Linked DNA regions of Homo sapiens: region 1 is linked to region 2. Evidence: fine-mapped expression QTL. Tissue or cell type: whole blood. Region 2 holds a variant in brackets; the other region holds the start of a gene. All regions are shown on one strand. Distances are between the middles of the regions.

Region 1 (2,763 bases), 56 kb after region 2:
ATATTCCCTCATATTCTTATGGCCTCTTAAAGTAAATATAATTATGTCTTTAAGGAAGAATCAGGGTCTGCAAGATCACACAGATAAGTGGTGGCAGCAGAATTGAAACTTAGATCTCTATGACAAAATTCCATGGTTTGCAATCAGACAAAACAGTTCAAACCCGTTTCCTCCACATGGGTGCATTTCTATGAACTTTTGCATGATGCTTTACCACAATGAGCCTTGCTTGGGTTTTATCAGTAAGATCAGATTATCAGTATCTAGAGACAGAATTGCTCTGAGGGTGAACTCAGATAAAGGTCTGTTCAAAGTACTTAGCACAGAACCTTGCAGAGGGTTGCCCCTCAGTGAATAATCACTATTATTACTATAACTATCACTGTTATTGTTGTTATTGCTGTTGAGATTATGATGTCAGGCTTTCCAGACACAGAGTATGGTTTCATTTGATTGTCCTACATGTATTAAAGTCCTACTGTGAGCAGGTTACTATTACTAAACTTTAGCTCCTCATGAAATGTTTATCTGGAAGCAGGTGAAAATAATGTGAGTGAATATGTATTACTTTAAAGACCACACCAGGGAAGCTCTTCAGACTTGAAGATAAGACCTTATTGTTTAAACTTGTGTATTTGCTAAGTTAGGCAAAAAATTGCTCTAGAGACTTTTTTGACTAAATTAAACCAAATATCATCAGATGCATGTGTGTACAAAGCCACAATAAACCTGAAAATGTCGCTGGGGAGGCAAGATCTCCTAGCATTTCAGAACAGGCTGATTTGATCATGATTTAGAGAGCTTTTCCATACACTTAGGCTGCTTTCTCTTCCTATGGCTGCAGCACACTTTAGTGGAAAATAAGCCCATAGGTATCTCATTTTTGGGGTGTGTGTGTGTGTGTGTTTTGTCCTCCCACAATAAGAAATCTCATCCTTTCCCATGGGCTCTGATTTTCTCTAACGTAAAGACATCGCTACTACTGTAGATAAAAGCAACACACTGTCAGAATCACAGAGAGCTAAGAGGTTGGACTTTATGTTCCATTTCTATTTTATTTGAAGATAGAAGTTTGATAACTTTCACAGATCTTTTGAGAGTGCATAATATATATAATTATGCTACACATATTGTTCTGCCACATCCAGATGCAAACTTCTAAAGGTGCAGCAGAGTACATCCTGCCACCAGCTGAGAAGGAGAAAGAATTATGGAAGGAGGGAGATAATTCTTGCCTATAAAAAAATGAGTTTACTTTCCTAATAAAATAAATCTAAAATTGGCCATTGTCATTGTATGATGTTAACAACCAGCTCTTTTGGCAAGTTTGAAAATACTGGGCTCCATTATAAAAGCTAAAAATGTCCTGGACCTGGAGTTGTTTACCCAGAGCATGAGCTGCTCTAAAGTTACAGAGCTCTGGTTGGAAGAGGTGGCTTGAAGGCCGCCTCCAAGTAACTGACGTCACAGTAGTCTCAGCTGCTGCTGTGACACTAAGCTGAGCAGCTTTTTGACTTGTAAAAGTGGTGAAGGTTTCAAAGGGACTTGTCAGTACTGCTCTGTGGAATGGTTGGACTTATTTTGCATCCCCTTTTCTTGTAAAGAATCGAGATTCACCGAGCTGAGACTTTTCTCTTTAAGACAGCTAGCCATCCACTTTCTTCCACTGCTAATTGACCAGTGGTCGAGCATCCATAGGATTTCTCCCCAGTGTGAAAGGTATGTTTCTTTCCGGCAAGTTTACAAGCAAGTGACTAATTATGGCAGGATACAAAGGGGCTGCTGTTGAGATGTTTTAAACTATGGATACTGTTTAAGTGGAGTGTAATTTCAACATCTGTCTCTGCTGTTGTCTGTGTCTGGGCTTAAAAACAGTGGGCGGGGTGCATAACAGATTGTACTGACTCCTAGGAAAAAGGCTGTTCAGCTGCTCAGGGTGGATTTCCCAACTGTGGACTGACAGTACCATCCGCTCTTTGAGACTGTTTTTCCAACACTGCTTCTCAGTTGTTTGAAAAGCACTTTGCCCATCATTGATTTTCACTAAGTATATTTATTCAAATGTGATTTTTTTTATTCATATAAAGACTTTTAACATTTGCAAATTAAAGGTCACAATCCTGGAGACTTGGTATTTGAAAATTGCGGTGAAAAATAAATTTTAGTTTTATCTAAGGTGGTGGTGGACTCACTGTAGAGTTAGTGTTTCTGTAATTTGAGCTGAAGTCTATGCCATTCATAATTGAATAATCTACGTTTAGGAGGGAAACTTACCACTATGTCTTTTGTTCACGATGGTTAGTTTTAGACATTTGTTTACTCAAACCAAATGTTTGCTTTTAAAGTTTGCATTTTATAAGTAAAATCAGTGTGCATACAGCTTGGATGTTTTCTAATTTGAGTAAATAACTGTAAAGAAAACAAGGAAGAAGATAATTAAATGAAACGGTAAAGTTGATTCATTCGGAATTGCATGTGGTAGTGTCTCTTTGACCTTGTTGGAGCATGAGGAATGTGCTAAATCAGCAATACACAGCAATGAAAAAAATTTCCCTTTTACTCTAACAAAATCAAATCATGGTGGTCTTTGGAAAGATTCAATTGCAAGTGAACAATAGAGAGGAATGAGATTTATTAATTCATTGAAATAATTCAAGTGATTATAATAGCCTGGAGAAAGGGATAGAGAATTTAGGAGGTAAATGGTACATTACTCTGATAGGTTATAAGCTGGGGAATTCCTAATCCATCAAAGTTAAGCAG
Region 2 (2,763 bases):
TCCGTAGAAAATATTCTCTAGGAACCCTACATCATAACCCTTTTCCTCTAATTGAACTTGGGAATACTAATTAAATGAAAACTTTCTCCAGTAAACTAGGCTTTACATATGGATTTGATGGTAAGGAAAGCCAAAGTTGTAAAAGCAGAGTTGACAACTCTAATATATGGATATCTTTTCTTTCTGAAGCTTCTTTTCCACTTTATCCTCTTTTCTTTTATATCTCCCTTTCCATCAATTCCTGTCTGACTCTGTATCTCACCCTTTCCAAAGCCTGCTACCATGAGAATGTAAGGTTCAGCTGCTTTCAGATCCGTCATTTTGCTGAGGTGGAGTGAGATGGAGACAGCGCCACCCTGGGCAAAATGAGAATTGACAGCCCTCCATCCTATTCCTAAAGACAGCCCTGCATCCTATTCCTAAAGTCAAAGCTTCTATTAAGCGCCATCCAAATGGAGCAATATCACCCTTTGCTCTGCAAAAATTCAGACATGTTGTCTTCTTCTCTCCTTTTGTTTCTGTCCCAGCTTAGGAAGGAAGGTTGGCGGCGGTGAAGAGGGAAGAGGATGATCTAGTAATGGGCTCTTCCAAATCGCATCTGGTAGGTTCATAGCCATGAGTCAGCCACCAATCGGGGGCGCTGCCCCTGCCACAGCAGCAGCTTCTCCCGCCGCTGCAGCCACTGAGGCTCGTCTGCACCCGGAGGGCAGCAGCAGAAAGCAGCAGCGAGCTCAGTCACCCGCTAGACCGAGGGACAGTTCGCTGCGACAGACAATCGCGGCCACCCGGTCCCCAGTGGGGGCCGGCACTAAACTCAATTCTGTTCGGCAGCAGCAGCTGCAGCAGCAGCAACAGCAGGGTAACAAGACCGGGAGCCGCACGGGGCCGCCCGCCAGCATCCGAGGAGGCGGAGGTGGGGCCGAGAAGGCGACGCCCCTGGCGCCCAAAGGGGCCGCTCCGGGAGCTGTCCAGCCTGTGGCTGGTGCTGAAGCGGCCCCCGCCGCGACCCTGGCCGCT[T/C]TGGGCGGCAGGAGGCCCGGACCGCCCGAGGAGCCGCCTCGGGAGCTAGAGTCCGTGCCCTCGAAACTCGGGGAACCCCCTCCGCTCGGAGAAGGGGGAGGAGGGGGCGGGGAAGGAGGAGGAGCCGGCGGCGGCTCCGGGGAAAGGGAGGGGGGCGCTCCGCAGCCGCCGCCGCCCAGGGGCTGGCGAGGGAAAGGCGTACGCGCTCAGCAGAGGGGCGGCAGCGGCGGGGAGGGGGCCTCCCCTTCTCCATCCTCCTCTTCTGCGGGCAAAACCCCAGGAACCGGCAGCAGAAACTCCGGAAGCGGCGTTGCGGGGGGCGGCAGCGGTGGTGGAGGGAGCTACTGGAAAGAAGGATGTCTGCAGTCTGAGCTCATCCAGTTCCATCTCAAGAAGGAGCGGGCGGCAGCGGCGGCGGCCGCGGCTCAGATGCACGCTAAGAACGGCGGCGGCAGCAGTAGCCGCAGCTCCCCGGTGTCTGGCCCCCCTGCCGTTTGCGAGACCCTGGCCGTCGCCTCCGCCTCCCCAATGGCGGCGGCGGCGGAGGGCCCCCAGCAGAGCGCAGAGGGCAGCGCGAGCGGCGGGGGCATGCAGGCGGCAGCGCCCCCTTCGTCGCAGCCGCACCCGCAGCAGCTCCAAGAGCAGGAAGAAATGCAAGAGGAGATGGAGAAGCTGCGAGAGGAAAACGAGACTCTCAAGGTGAGGAGGGTGGGGGGACCCGGCTGGGGGATGGGAAGAGTGGGCCTGGGAGGATTAGGGCGTGTACCGGCAGGGATCAGAGGCTGCTAACCTGTTAGGGAGCCTTGAAGAGGGAGGAGAACAAGAAAGGAGGGAGGGGGTTTCCTAGGCCTTGCCGGAATTTGAATCTGCTCTCAGTAACGCGAGGTTTTCATTTAAATTCAAATCTGGGCCTCCGTTTCTCTAATTATAATGGTTTGTCACACTTCTTCCTGGAGAGAGGTAGAGTAAGAGAACGAGAGAGGGCCTAAAGTGGGCCTTTTTCCCCCAGTTTCCTCTTCTGTACTCAGCTCCTTGTCACTCCTGTCTCGTGGAGAGAGAGGGCAATTAAAGCTGAGAATTTGGAATTGGAATGGGGTGTGTACGGTGTGTGTCGGAAGGGCTGGAAGCGAGTTTGATTTTGACACGCGGCCTGTCACCGCCTCAGAACGAGATCGATGAGCTGAGAACCGAGATGGACGAGATGAGGGACACTTTCTTCGAGGAGGATGCCTGTCAACTGCAGGAAATGCGCCACGAGTTGGAGAGAGCCAACAAAAACTGCCGGATCCTGCAGTACCGCCTCCGCAAAGCCGAGCGCAAAAGGCTCCGCTACGCCCAGACCGGGGAAATCGACGGGGAGCTGTTGCGCAGCCTGGAGCAGGACCTCAAGGTCTGCGGCGCGGGGGCTCAATGGCGCGCGGCAGGGGCGGTGGGTGGGGACTTTGGCCAAGGGCTCTTTAGGCTGAGAAGTCTTCAGTGGCGACTGGCAAGGAGCCTTAGGGACACAGTTTCGTAGCGCTAACCACAAAATACTAGGGTCTCAGAAGGGAGAGAACTGGCAGGTGGCTCTAAAGAGTGCAGAGTGTGTGGAGGGCCTGGCAGCAAACGAGCTAAGTGTGCTCTCCTGGGAGCAAAGGTGGCTCTTCAAGAGGTGATGAGAAGAAGGCTCCCTTCTGGGCAGAAGCAAGGGCGTGGCAGAGCGCAGGCTCTAGCCTTTGATCTGCCCTTCAGTCTGTCTACTGAGAG

Evidence for each region. PIP is the estimated chance that this variant, and not a neighbour inherited with it, causes the effect. A credible set is the group of variants that fine-mapping cannot tell apart.
Region 1: it holds the start of KIAA0408, and the variant in region 2 is the best candidate, but not a certain one, in a credible set for the expression of KIAA0408 in whole blood (TOPMed, PIP 0.62).

Annotation. Positions count from the first base shown.
Region 1 is chr6:127,458,131-127,460,893 of GRCh38, reverse strand. It overlaps KIAA0408, which reads left to right and starts at 1,505. Exons shown (of 6, transcript NM_014702.5): 1 at 1,505-1,719. The region is part of intron 7 of SOGA3-KIAA0408 (SOGA3-KIAA0408 readthrough); the gene reads left to right.
Region 2 is chr6:127,514,467-127,517,229 of GRCh38, reverse strand. It overlaps MTCL3 (MTCL family member 3), which reads left to right. Exons shown (of 7, transcript NM_001400265.1): 2 at 528-1,716; 3 at 2,183-2,407. The coding sequence starts at 616. SOGA3-KIAA0408 (SOGA3-KIAA0408 readthrough) reads left to right here. Exons shown (of 13, transcript NR_174482.1): 2 at 528-1,716; 3 at 2,183-2,407. LOC107986642 (a long non-coding RNA gene) reads right to left here. Exons shown (of 2, transcript XR_001744337.2): 2 at 1,930-2,763. Among named protein-coding and RNA genes, the nearest start is that of MTCL3, 3.5 kb to the left of the region's middle. RefSeq lists a silencer at 982-1,211 and an enhancer at 1,899-2,423. The variant T/C (reference allele first, on the strand shown) is at 1,018.